Linked DNA regions of Homo sapiens. The protein of the gene in region 3 interacts with the protein of the main gene of each other region in a biochemical or structural test. Each region holds a gene or a part of one and is shown on either strand. Other genes may lie near its edges.

What was found.
Region 1: the proteins of AXIN1 (region 3) and LRP6 interact in far-western blotting, tested with the Homo sapiens proteins (one study listed by BioGRID).
Region 2: the proteins of AXIN1 (region 3) and AMER1 form a complex in vitro, tested with the Homo sapiens proteins (one study listed by BioGRID).

Annotation. Positions count from the first base shown.
Region 1 is NC_000012.12:12,117,045-12,120,544, forward strand, and holds part of LRP6 (low-density lipoprotein receptor-related protein 6 isoform b precursor), read right to left. Parts: 3' UTR 1-3,500. UniProt on the Homo sapiens protein: Component of the Wnt-Fzd-LRP5-LRP6 complex that triggers beta-catenin signaling through inducing aggregation of receptor-ligand complexes into ribosome-sized signalosomes.
Region 2 is NC_000023.11:64,199,168-64,202,894, forward strand, and holds part of AMER1 (APC membrane recruitment protein 1), read right to left. Parts: intron 1-3,727. UniProt on the Homo sapiens protein: Regulator of the canonical Wnt signaling pathway.
Region 3 is NC_000016.10:297,205-300,931, reverse strand, and holds part of AXIN1 (axin-1), read left to right. Parts: intron 1-1,727; coding exon of another isoform or gene 1,728-1,748; exon of another isoform or gene 1,749-1,921; intron 1,922-2,633; coding exon of another isoform or gene 2,634-2,657; exon of another isoform or gene 2,658-2,672; intron 2,673-2,680; coding exon 2,681-3,210; intron 3,211-3,705; coding exon 3,706-3,727. UniProt on the Homo sapiens protein: Component of the beta-catenin destruction complex required for regulating CTNNB1 levels through phosphorylation and ubiquitination, and modulating Wnt-signaling.

The DNA.
Region 1 (3,500 bases), on a different chromosome or scaffold from region 3:
TTTTGAAACTATTATAAAATGGTGCCATCCCAAAAGTCAGAAGCCACACATGCACTACAAGTACTTTCTAAAATCATCTTTCACTACAAGTACTTTCTAAAATCATCTTTCTCTTGGTTCATTTTAGGCTTAAGAAATACCAAATAAAATTAAATTCCTTGGGTTTAAGAATTCTGATAATGTTTTAAACAACACCTGACTATAAGCTTCTTTAGGACTCAGTCCACACTTAGTGCATAGTCTCATCTGTAGATGCCCAAATATTTGTCCACCTACTGATAACTGGTCAACACACTCATATCCATACTCTAAATCAACTATGGATGCCATATGTAGACTTAAGCACCACACATTTATTAAGAGCTGACATATTTCGGATGTGAAAAGTCCAAGATTTTTGTTTCTGAATCTTGTTAGATACGTAATGATAACCAATATGTAATTCCTATGGCATGCAAATGAATGAAGTGGGACAAAGCTTCCCCTACAAGAAATAAAACAATTCAAAATATGACATTTCTAAGAATCTAATCTAGGCAGCTGCAGCCTGTTTACTGCATAGAAGTAGGCGTGCTTAACGCATACCTCTTCAGTCTCTATTATGACTACTGGTATCAAGTCACATAAATAAACACACTTCATTAACACACTAGGTAAGCTACAGCTATTAACTCTACTGGAAGTATTCTTCATTAATAGGGCTTTATAGCAAAAGAAAAAGATGATCCTCCAAAACTGCTACCTAATACAGATGATGGCTATTTTTAATACCTTCAATAATGAATGAGTTTCCTTCATATAAATTACTGACTTTAGGATATTTTTAAATGATAAAGAAATACAACCCTCAAAATCATCTTAAAATTGTACTGCTCAAAGCCCCTTCCCCCAATTACTGGCCTATATTAGATTAAAATGTACTTTAAAGTCTTCATTTCTAAGTACCTATCATCTCTGTAGAATAGGTGTTCTCAAACTTACTAAAGAATCAGAGATCTCTTGGTAATGTATCACAAGCTACTTTTATATTAAAATTAAAGTAACTACATAATCTTCTGCTAAACAGATATCTTGTGATATGCTGTAAGAGTGGCAGAAAGTGCCAAAGGCATAATAAAATTTCATGGAAGAAAAATTAATAGTCAGAAAATTCTATCCACCAACTCTCTTTGTTTCCCTGTGAATGTGCTATTATCTGACTTAAGCAAACAAAACTCCTTAAGTCACTATTCAGAAGACCACGACTCTGTTGGAGCAAAGTCCAGGCCTTAGTTATAAAAGACCACTTCAATGCAGAATAGCTTACTGTGGTGCACACAAAGTATGTTATGCTCAAGTTTATTTCTTGGACAATTTTAATCACATCAGTTAGTGCATATATTTTAGGACACATGTTCAAAATAAATACTTTTGCATATAAGGAATCTAATGAAACATTATTCATTTTCCCCCTTGGACAATGAATTTAATACACCAAATTTAAAAATCCCTTTTCTTTTTTCCCCCTAATTTGTGATCTCATGCTTTTCCTCTCAACTTTTCCAATTACAGCTTGTGTTTGATAATCAATATACAGTTTACTTAAGCTTAACTGTCCATGTAACCTAAGGCTCAATAAATCTTTCCAAATTTGACAATTCTCTCATTAAAAAGTACTCCCAGAAATATTAAGAATCCATCTCATCTACCCCAGAAAGAGAACACTGAGATTAGGCTGAACTGCCTTCAAATAATTTTAAACAAATTGGCACACAAATTAGTATTTTGAAGAAGAGGCCATTGCCATCGCAGTGCAAGCACGTGGACTGAGATCCAACAAGGCAATATTCTTCTTAGTTAATTAGAGTGCAAGTCTCCACATGGGAAGCCCACCAGATCAAGATGCACATTTAAATATGTAAACATATAGAATTCTCAAATTCTAACTGACACCCAGGTATTGCTAACCTTTCCATCTTCATTTAAGCATCAAGTGCCCTGTGTATCACAGAATCCAAGTTCAATGTCCATTTTGTCTGACACTGTGGGCACTTAGTTCCAGCAATGGGAAGAGTTCATGCTTGTCTGTTTTAGGATTCTGATAGATTTACCATTTGCTTATATGCAAAATCAAGTGCACCTGATTCTTACAGTCTCCAACAATCAGCATTATTCTGAAACCACAATTTTATCTTCAAAAACTTTACTTAGGTATTTTTAACTTGCATGAACAGTTACTTCACCCTTGCCCAAATTCTGAATCCTTTCTTCCACTGTTTTCTCTTGGGCCCTGAAACCCAGAGAGGCCTTGGCAAGACAGAATTAAAAAAGAAAAAAAAAAAATTCAATAATTAACTGACCAACACCTCTTAAGCTAAAAATACATTAGTTTAAAACCATTCAATTTTAGCAGAGAAGTGCTACACATGTGTAAAAAGCAGGAAACGAACTTCTGGCAAGGTGGCAGAGCAAGTGCTAGAATCATTCCACAGGTCAGCCCTGATAGCTCAAGATGTAGCAGCCCCAGTACCATACATGACAGCAGGTCAGGCAGATCACAAAAGAGGCTTCCATTATTCCCTTCCACCCAAATTCTGACAGCTGAGAAGTTAACAGTTTGCCTTCTCATTTAATCCTCATTGTTAAATTTGTTAAACTATCTTAATCCATAATGGGTAAGAGAGGACCCACATAAAAATATTGGGTGATTACAAGAATAATTTGTGGATAATTTGAAAACAGCCTAACATTCACAGTGGGTAACAGAAAGATATTAAATTCATGTCACACATTAGAAGAGGTATGTATGTAGACATTATTCTGAGAAAAACCGGTCTAAAGAACATGAAAACATCACAAACTGTTAATATAGGGAAAATCCTAATAAGAAAAAAATCTTTTTAAATAGATTGTCTCTAACCAGAACATATTTAAATGTTTTACTCAGAAAACAAACAAACAAACAAAATATATATATATATATATATATATATATATATATATATATATATATATATATAAATGATTTCGTACTGTGATATATGCTGAAAGTAGTGCAAGGATATGAGATTTACAACAAAAACATAATGGTTAAATTTTTAATTCTTAAACATTGTCTATATGTGTTGTAAAAAGACATTTTAATGAGCATTAAAACAATCTTGGAAGAAGAGAAATAATATGTCTAACTTTTGATCATTATGCAAAAACAGCAGTCAAATTGAAGAGCTAAGCCTACTGGGGAATGGAGCTAGAAGAAATATTAAAATCAAGTTTAATTTAGAAAATTCCATTTAGTCAATGCTTCAGCTTAAAAAAATCATGGTATCTTAGCAAAATGACTTACCAAGTTGCTGGAGGAGGCAGCAAGGTAAACATACCTAGAGAAAAAAATTCATTTTGACAGAGGTATGGATTCTAAAGGTAGGGACAGAGACTTGCACACACACACAGCTTCATGGCATCTTACCAGAGGGCTGATCTCTCCTACAACAGCAACACCCAGAATGGGTTTTTAGAAA
Region 2 (3,727 bases), on a different chromosome or scaffold from region 3:
TGGGACTTCTCTCTCCTGTCCCAATTCCCCCACCAGCCCCTCTCAACTGATTTGTTTACATACTGAGCTTTGTATAATTCATCCTGACGGGCTTTGGTCTGTTCATTCATCTCTCTCAAATTGACCCTCCTTCATCTTACAGTCACTACAACTAGCACACAGCAGGAGCTCAAACAATGCTGATTCAACTGAATTCTAATTCACCTGAAGTTTCTTGGTGCGGAACTGGAATGCCAGCCTCACCTTCTATAGGCTGTGTGGTTTGAGAAAGTGGCCTAACCTCTCTGACACTCAAATGCCTTATCTGTAAAATGAAGAAAATGCTATCTACCATGCAGGATTGTGGTAAGGATTAGAGATGATCAATGTAAAAGCAAACTGGTAACTACATACTAAGCAGATATTCAATAAAGGGCTCTTGTGATGAGGCCACTTGTAGGCACCTTTTCCTCTCCAGCTCCCCAATTGCCACCCCACATTCTCCGAAGATGACACAAGCCTCTTAGCTGAGCTCCCTCTAGTCCCTCCCTACCGCAGCACCCCCTGGCTCCCCTCTCCCATCTCATTCATCCTGTACGTTGTTGCCAGATTCATTTTCTTACAACTCCTGTTTCAGCACTTCACTCCTCCACTTACCAAATTATTCTGCATTGCCTACAGGATAAGGGCCAAAACCCTATGTCTGATGTTAAAGGCTTGCTCTCCCTGAATGCTCCTTACAAGTTTCTCAGCCTTGTTTCTCTGCCTCTTGGCCCCAGCCCCAAATACACAGGGGTTTGCCCAGTCTGGGAGATGTGGTCACCCAGATACCACCTCTCCCTAGAAATGGGCTTTCCTGGTGAGTCTTCTTAGTGCCCCAGGTTCCTCCTCAGGCTCTTGAGGTCCCCTCCCTGCCCAGCTTGCCTTGAATGACAGGGACTTTGGGAGCCACTTACTTGCCACTCCCATCTTAGGCTCCCAAACTTTCTTAGAGAGAAGTGTATCTGAAGTGGGTACCATGCCCGCCTGCATAGGCTTCCACTAAGTCAGTACTAGCCCAGCTAGAGCGAGATCAGACAGGTGCCAACCCTTCCCCACCCCCCGTTCAAATGAAGAATAGGAGAGGAGCTAACTCCAGAGAAACAGATGTGACAGAGCAGCCAAGGAAACCCTACAGAGGAGCAGCTGGGTCAAGTGAACAATGGATACCTCTGACTTTCCTATGTGTCCACTCCCCTCTACTAACCATGCCCTGTGTGAGAAACCAAGTGAGGAAACTGAAGCTTGGGAGGGGACAAGGAGAGTGTGATTCGAGGAAGAACTCTGGAATTGAATTGCGGACCAGGAGCTTTGGACTTCTGAGTTAACTTGAGCAAATCCTTTCCCTGTTCTGGACCTCAGTTTCTTCATATAGAAATGGGAGATTGGACCAGGGAGTCTGCTTGCTCCAAGTTGCCCTGAGAGGCTGGGGGAGGAGTGGTCTTGTGCCCAGTTTTCTAATGGCTGCTGAGTCAGAAGGCATAGCAGGGGGCACTGGATTGGCTTTGAGGGTCCTAGGTCTTACTGTTAGGCCTGGTTACCTAGCTGGTTCGACCTAGTTCACCACTTCAGGACAAAGGTGCACTGTGGCCCAGCCTCACTCCTTACACCACCCCTCAACATTTTGCTCTTTCAAAATGCACTGAGTCTGGCCTGTGAATATTTCCAACATATCCAGAAAGGAGGGGGGCCAGAACTGGTCATGCCATTCCTCATTCCCCTGAAAAGAGCCACAGCCCCCAGCAAGAAGGGCTGAGCAGATGGAGAGGGAGGGTTGAGGCATACTCACTAGGGATGGAGGGTTAGTATCCACTTGGAAGCCCAGCGGGGGTAAAAACTGTAGGAGATGAAAGCAATGAAACCTCTATGCTGAAAAAAAATGCACATCAAAGGGTCACAAAGGCCACTGCAGCACCAGTATGCCTGCCTATGACCACACCAAGCCCCTCAGGTCATTTTCTCCATTGTTCATATTTTCCCCTAATTCCAAAAGGGGAGGTGGAGGGAGCAACATACTCTTACTGGGCTAGCACCTGTACCTCTGTAGTGGTTCTGGTTCCCCTGCCTGCCTTTGCTAGAAATACACTTACACACGCACAGGTTTGAAAAATAAGACGAAGCAGAGGAGATGGAAGACTCTGAGATTATTTAATTCAGAGAACAGAAGTTGGGGGTGCAGAGAGAGTTTAATGCCTATGAAATCTCCAATAGATCGTTAAGCAGAAGAGCAATGGTGGCCAGCTGCTCGCAACTCCTTCCCCCAACACACACACACACACACACACACACACACACACACACACACAAGGTTTAACTATAGCATGACAGGCTCAGATTATCCCTGAGAAAGAACTGGGCAATGAGGCAGGTGACCCAGGAATGAGTGACACAGAAAGGCTATGAAATATTGCCTCAGGGGCTTAACCCTTTATCACCCACTGTATCTGCCCAGACAGGATTCAGGTAGGGAAATTGAAATAACATTGGACATTCTCTCTTCTAGCCTCAGATAGCCTATCTGTTAAGCAAGGGGGCTGGAAACCCCTTCTCCCTCTTGGTTCTACCTGCCAGGCTTGCTACTGTTTCCTAGTGGAGCAGAGTTGTTTCTTCCATACACACTATCTACGAGTGGAGATGTAACAGTTCTTCAGGAAATTTCGTGTTTCTTTGAGACAGGGTCTTGCTCTGCTGCCCAGCCTGGAGTGCAGTGGCATGATCATGGCTCACTGCAGCCTTGATGTCTCAGGCCCAAGAGAGGCTCCTGCCTCAGCCTTCCAAGTAGCTGGGACTACAGGTGCAAACCACCACACCTGGCTAAATTTTTGTATTTTTTGTAGAGATGAGGTTTTGCCATGTTGCCCGAGCTGGTCTCGAACTCCTGGGGTCAAGTGATCCACCCGGCTAGGCCTCCCAAAGTGCTGGAATTGCAGGTGTGAGCCACCAGGCCCAGCCCTTAAGGAATTTTTAATACCTCCACTATGCTAGGAGGGGATCATTAGACTGCCAAATTCTTCCAACTACCTCCTCTCCTTTTGAAATTTTCAGTCCCAGCAAAGCTATAGGCCAAGACCAAGAGGCAAAAGAGACATTAAACGAGTGAGAGGCTCCCCTTATGAAGTTCCCAAGTTAACTCAGCCCCCCTTTCCTCTTAGGGAATGAGGGAGGTAAGATGAGGGGGATGGTTAATGAAATCTACATTGATTGGAGGCTGCTGGTTCCATGGAACATAGTGGAAAGAGCCACTGCACGGGAAGCAGGAGCCTATCCTTAAATAGCTGTGTGACCTTAAGCGAGCCCCTGTTGCTTTCCAAGGCTAAGGATTCTCATCTGTAAGCATAGCAGTTCAAACTGGTGCTCCCCAAGGACTGCCCATCTGAGAGGAAGGTGTTCAGCAGAGGCCTGGGGAACACTTCTCAGCCCCACTTCCCACCTCTTCCTGCCCTTTCCCCTGCAATGCCAAAGGGAGGCTGACATAGTAAAACTTTCCTTTGGAGGTAGCCTGCCCGCAGCTCTACTTCCAGATCCAAAGGTGACCTCTTAACTGGCTGACTTTGCAGCATGCTTCTGATCCCTTTCTAAGACCCCATTCTAAAACTCATTCAAAAACCTTGTTTTTATTACTGCTTAGTTACATACAAAAATAGCAACTCCCTGTCAATTCCCTACTCTTTGATGCCGCCTTCCCCTAAAAGGATCAGATTTCCATTCC
Region 3 (3,727 bases):
CCATTAGCCGAGTGGTTAAGTTAATCTGTAACATTTCACAGCCCCATGATAGAATTCCTGCCGATGTGGAGCTCGGCCAAGGCAGTGAACGGCATCAAAACTCCAAACACTTTTAGTCCCTAGGAAGACCCTCGGTTAAGATTTCTCCCCAGAGTGCCCGGGCCCTTTAGTCCTACAAAACCAAGGAAAGGGAGGCAGCATAGCTGCATCCGCCAGGGGATGCCCACCACCCACCTGTCCCCCGGCTCTGCTCCAGCATCCGTCTGTCCTCTTTAGTGCCATATTTCACCCTCAGCCCCAGTGCAGGTGCCCGCAGCCAAGCCCACACCAGCTCTGGGGCACGCCTGTTCCAGTTGCATTTGGATACTTTTGCAGGTGTGAGAGTTGGGTGCTAAACGTTGGGAGGTTTGTTTATATTAAAATATAGAGGTAGGTGGGGCACAGTGGCTCACATCTGTAATCCCAACACTTTGAGAGGCCAAGACAGAAGGATCACTTGAGGCCAGGAATTTAAGAGCAGGTTGGACAACATAGTGAGATTCCCCATCTCTACAAAAAAAAAAGAAAAAGAAAAAATTAATGGGACATGGTGGCATGCACCTGTAGTCCCAGCTACTTGGCAGGCTGAAGCAGGAGGATCGCTTGACCCCTGGAGGTTGAGGCTGCCTTGAGCTGTGATGGCACCACTGCGATTAGGTGTGGTGGCTCACACCTGTAATCCTAGCACTTTGGGAGGCCAAGGTGGGTGGATCACCTGAGGTCAGGAGTTCGAGACCAGCCTGGCAAACAGGGTGAAACCCAGTCTCTACTAAAAATACAAAAAATTTAGCTGGGCATGGTGGTGGGTGCCTGTAATCCCAGCTACCCGGGAGGCTGAGGCAGGAGAATTACTTGAACCCGGGAGGCGGAGATTGCACTACAGCCTGGGACACAAGAGTGAAACTCCGTCTCAAAAAAAAATTAAATAAATAAAAATAGGCCGGGCACGGTGGCTCACACTTGTAATCCCAGCACTTTGGGAGGCCGAGGTGGGCAGATCACGAGGTCGGGAGATCGAGACCATCCTGGCTAACACGGTGAAACTCCATCTCTACTAAAAATATAAAAAATTAGCCGGGCGTGGTGGCGGGCACCTGTAGTCCCAGCTACTGGGCAGGCTGAGGCAGGAGAATGGTGTGAACCCGGGAGACGGAGGTTGCAGTGAGCCGAGATCGTGCCACTGCACTCCAGCCTGGGTGACAGAGCGAGACTCTGTCTCAAAAAAATGAAAATAAATAGGCCGGTTGTGGTGGCTCACTCCTGTAATCCCAGCACTTTGGGAGGCCGAGGGTGGTGGATTACCTGAGGTTAGGAGTTTGAGACCAGCCTGGCCAACATGGTGAAACCCCGTCTCTACTAAAAATACAAAAAAATTAGGCAGGCATGGTGGCACACTCCTATAATCCCAGCTACTCGGTAGGCTGAGGCAGGAGGATTGCTTGAGCCCGGGAGGTGGAGGTTGCAGTGAGCCAAGATCGTGCCACTGCACTCCAGCCTGGCTGACAGAGCGACTCTGACTCTAAATAAATAAATACATACATAGATACATGGTAACTTAGTTCCCTCTCTTTCTTTTGTATTGACACCAGATTTACTCAATACTGTTTTAGTTTGTCAGTCCAATAAGATGAGAAAATAAGTATGAGATGCAACTTGGAATTAAAGTGATCAAATGTTTGCTCTGACAGATAAGCTTCAGCACCTGTTAACTTGGAGAATCAAGTGAAACTCCACCGGCTTCATGTGGAAGCTCGTCAGGCAGCATCACAACATGTACATAACCCAAGAGCCGTTCTGTACAAGGTTCTCCTTAAAATATAATGGGAGGCCGGGCGCGGCGGCTCATGCCTGTCATCCCAACACTTTGGGAGGCCGAGGTGGGTGGATCATGAGGTCAGGAGTTCGAGACCAGCCTGGCCAACATAGTGAAATCCTGTCTCTACTAAAAATACAAAAATTAGCTGGGTGTGGTGGCGCACACCTGTAGTCTCAGCTACTTGGGAGGCTGAAGGAGGAGAATCACTTGAACCCAGGAGGCAGAGGTTGCAGGGAGCCGAGATGGCACCATTGCACTCCAGCCTGGGTAACAGAGCAAGACTCTGTCTCAAAAAATATATATATATACAGGCCAAGGCAGGCAGATTGCTTGAGCTCAGGCATTCGAGACCAGCCTGGCCAATATGGTGAGAATCGCATCTGTCCCCAAAGTACAAAAAAATTAGCTGGGCGTGGTGGCACACGGCTGTGGTCTCCGCTATTCTGGAGGCTGAGGTGGGAGGATCGCTTGAGCCTAGGAGGCGGAGGCTGCAGTGAGCTGAGATCACACCACTGTTCTCCAGCCTGGGCAACAGAGCAAGAACTTGTCTCAAAAAAAGAATAAAACTAAACTAAATCTGTGCAGAGCTCTGCCCACAGCCGATACATACGCTGCATTCCTTGAGGCCTTGCTGTCTCCGCTCCTTCTGTCTATGCCCCGTCCTGCCTCTCCATCCTCAGGGACAGGACCGGTGGCGAGGGGCCCCCGGCCACCCTGGGCTGGGACGGCATCTGCTGGGGCTGCTGGGTCAGGCCTGATGCTTTTTGTTTTCCCCAAGTGTGCAGCTGGTGCTGAGAGGTGATGGTGCTGCTTGTCCCCACACAGGAGGAGGAAGGTGAGGACGGCGATCCATCGTCAGGGCCCCCAGGGCCGTGTCACAAGCTGCCTCCCGCCCCCGCTTGGCACCACTTCCCGCCCCGCTGTGTGGACATGGGCTGTGCCGGGCTCCGGGATGCACACGAGGAGAACCCTGAGAGCATCCTGGACGAGCACGTACAGCGTGTGCTGAGGACACCTGGCCGCCAGTCGCCTGGGCCTGGCCATCGCTCCCCGGACAGTGGGCACGTGGCCAAGATGCCAGTGGCACTGGGGGGTGCCGCCTCGGGGCACGGGAAGCACGTACCCAAGTCAGGGGCGAAGCTGGACGCGGCCGGCCTGCACCACCACCGACACGTCCACCACCACGTCCACCACAGCACAGCCCGGCCCAAGGAGCAGGTGGAGGCCGAGGCCACCCGCAGGGCCCAGAGCAGCTTCGCCTGGGGCCTGGAACCACACAGCCATGGGGCAAGGTCCCGAGGCTACTCAGAGAGTGTTGGCGCTGCCCCCAACGCCAGTGATGGCCTCGCCCACAGGTGAGCGTGCGCCTGTCAGTGAGGAGGGGGCTTGGGGTGAGGCTGTGTCCCTGCAGAAGGCCAGAACCTCCTCATAAAACTCAGGAAACCCAGGACCGCCAGCAACAGGCAGGAGGCCCCTCTGCTGGAGGGAGTGGACTGGGCCCTGGGTCAGGGGAGTCCACGCCGTGACCTCAGGTGGGAGATGAAGGTTAGGGGACACAGCCCGACCCTGGCTCCCGCTCTGGCCCTCAGTCTTCAGGGGGTGAGCAGTGACTGCCTGTGTGTTTAGAGAGGAAACCAACCCCCAGACAGCACCAGGACAGCGGGCAGGGGACAGCGGGTGGGGGACAAGCTGGCGGGGGACAGCGGGTGGGGGACAAGCGGGCAGGGGACAGCGGGCGGCGGCTGCACCACGGGAGCCTTACAGATGCCAGGAGGGGGCCTCGCAGACGAGGAAGGGGCACAGCCTCGGCCACCGGAGGCCAGGGCGACTCGCAGCTCTTGCCCTTGCAGTGGGAAGGTGGGCGTGGCGTGC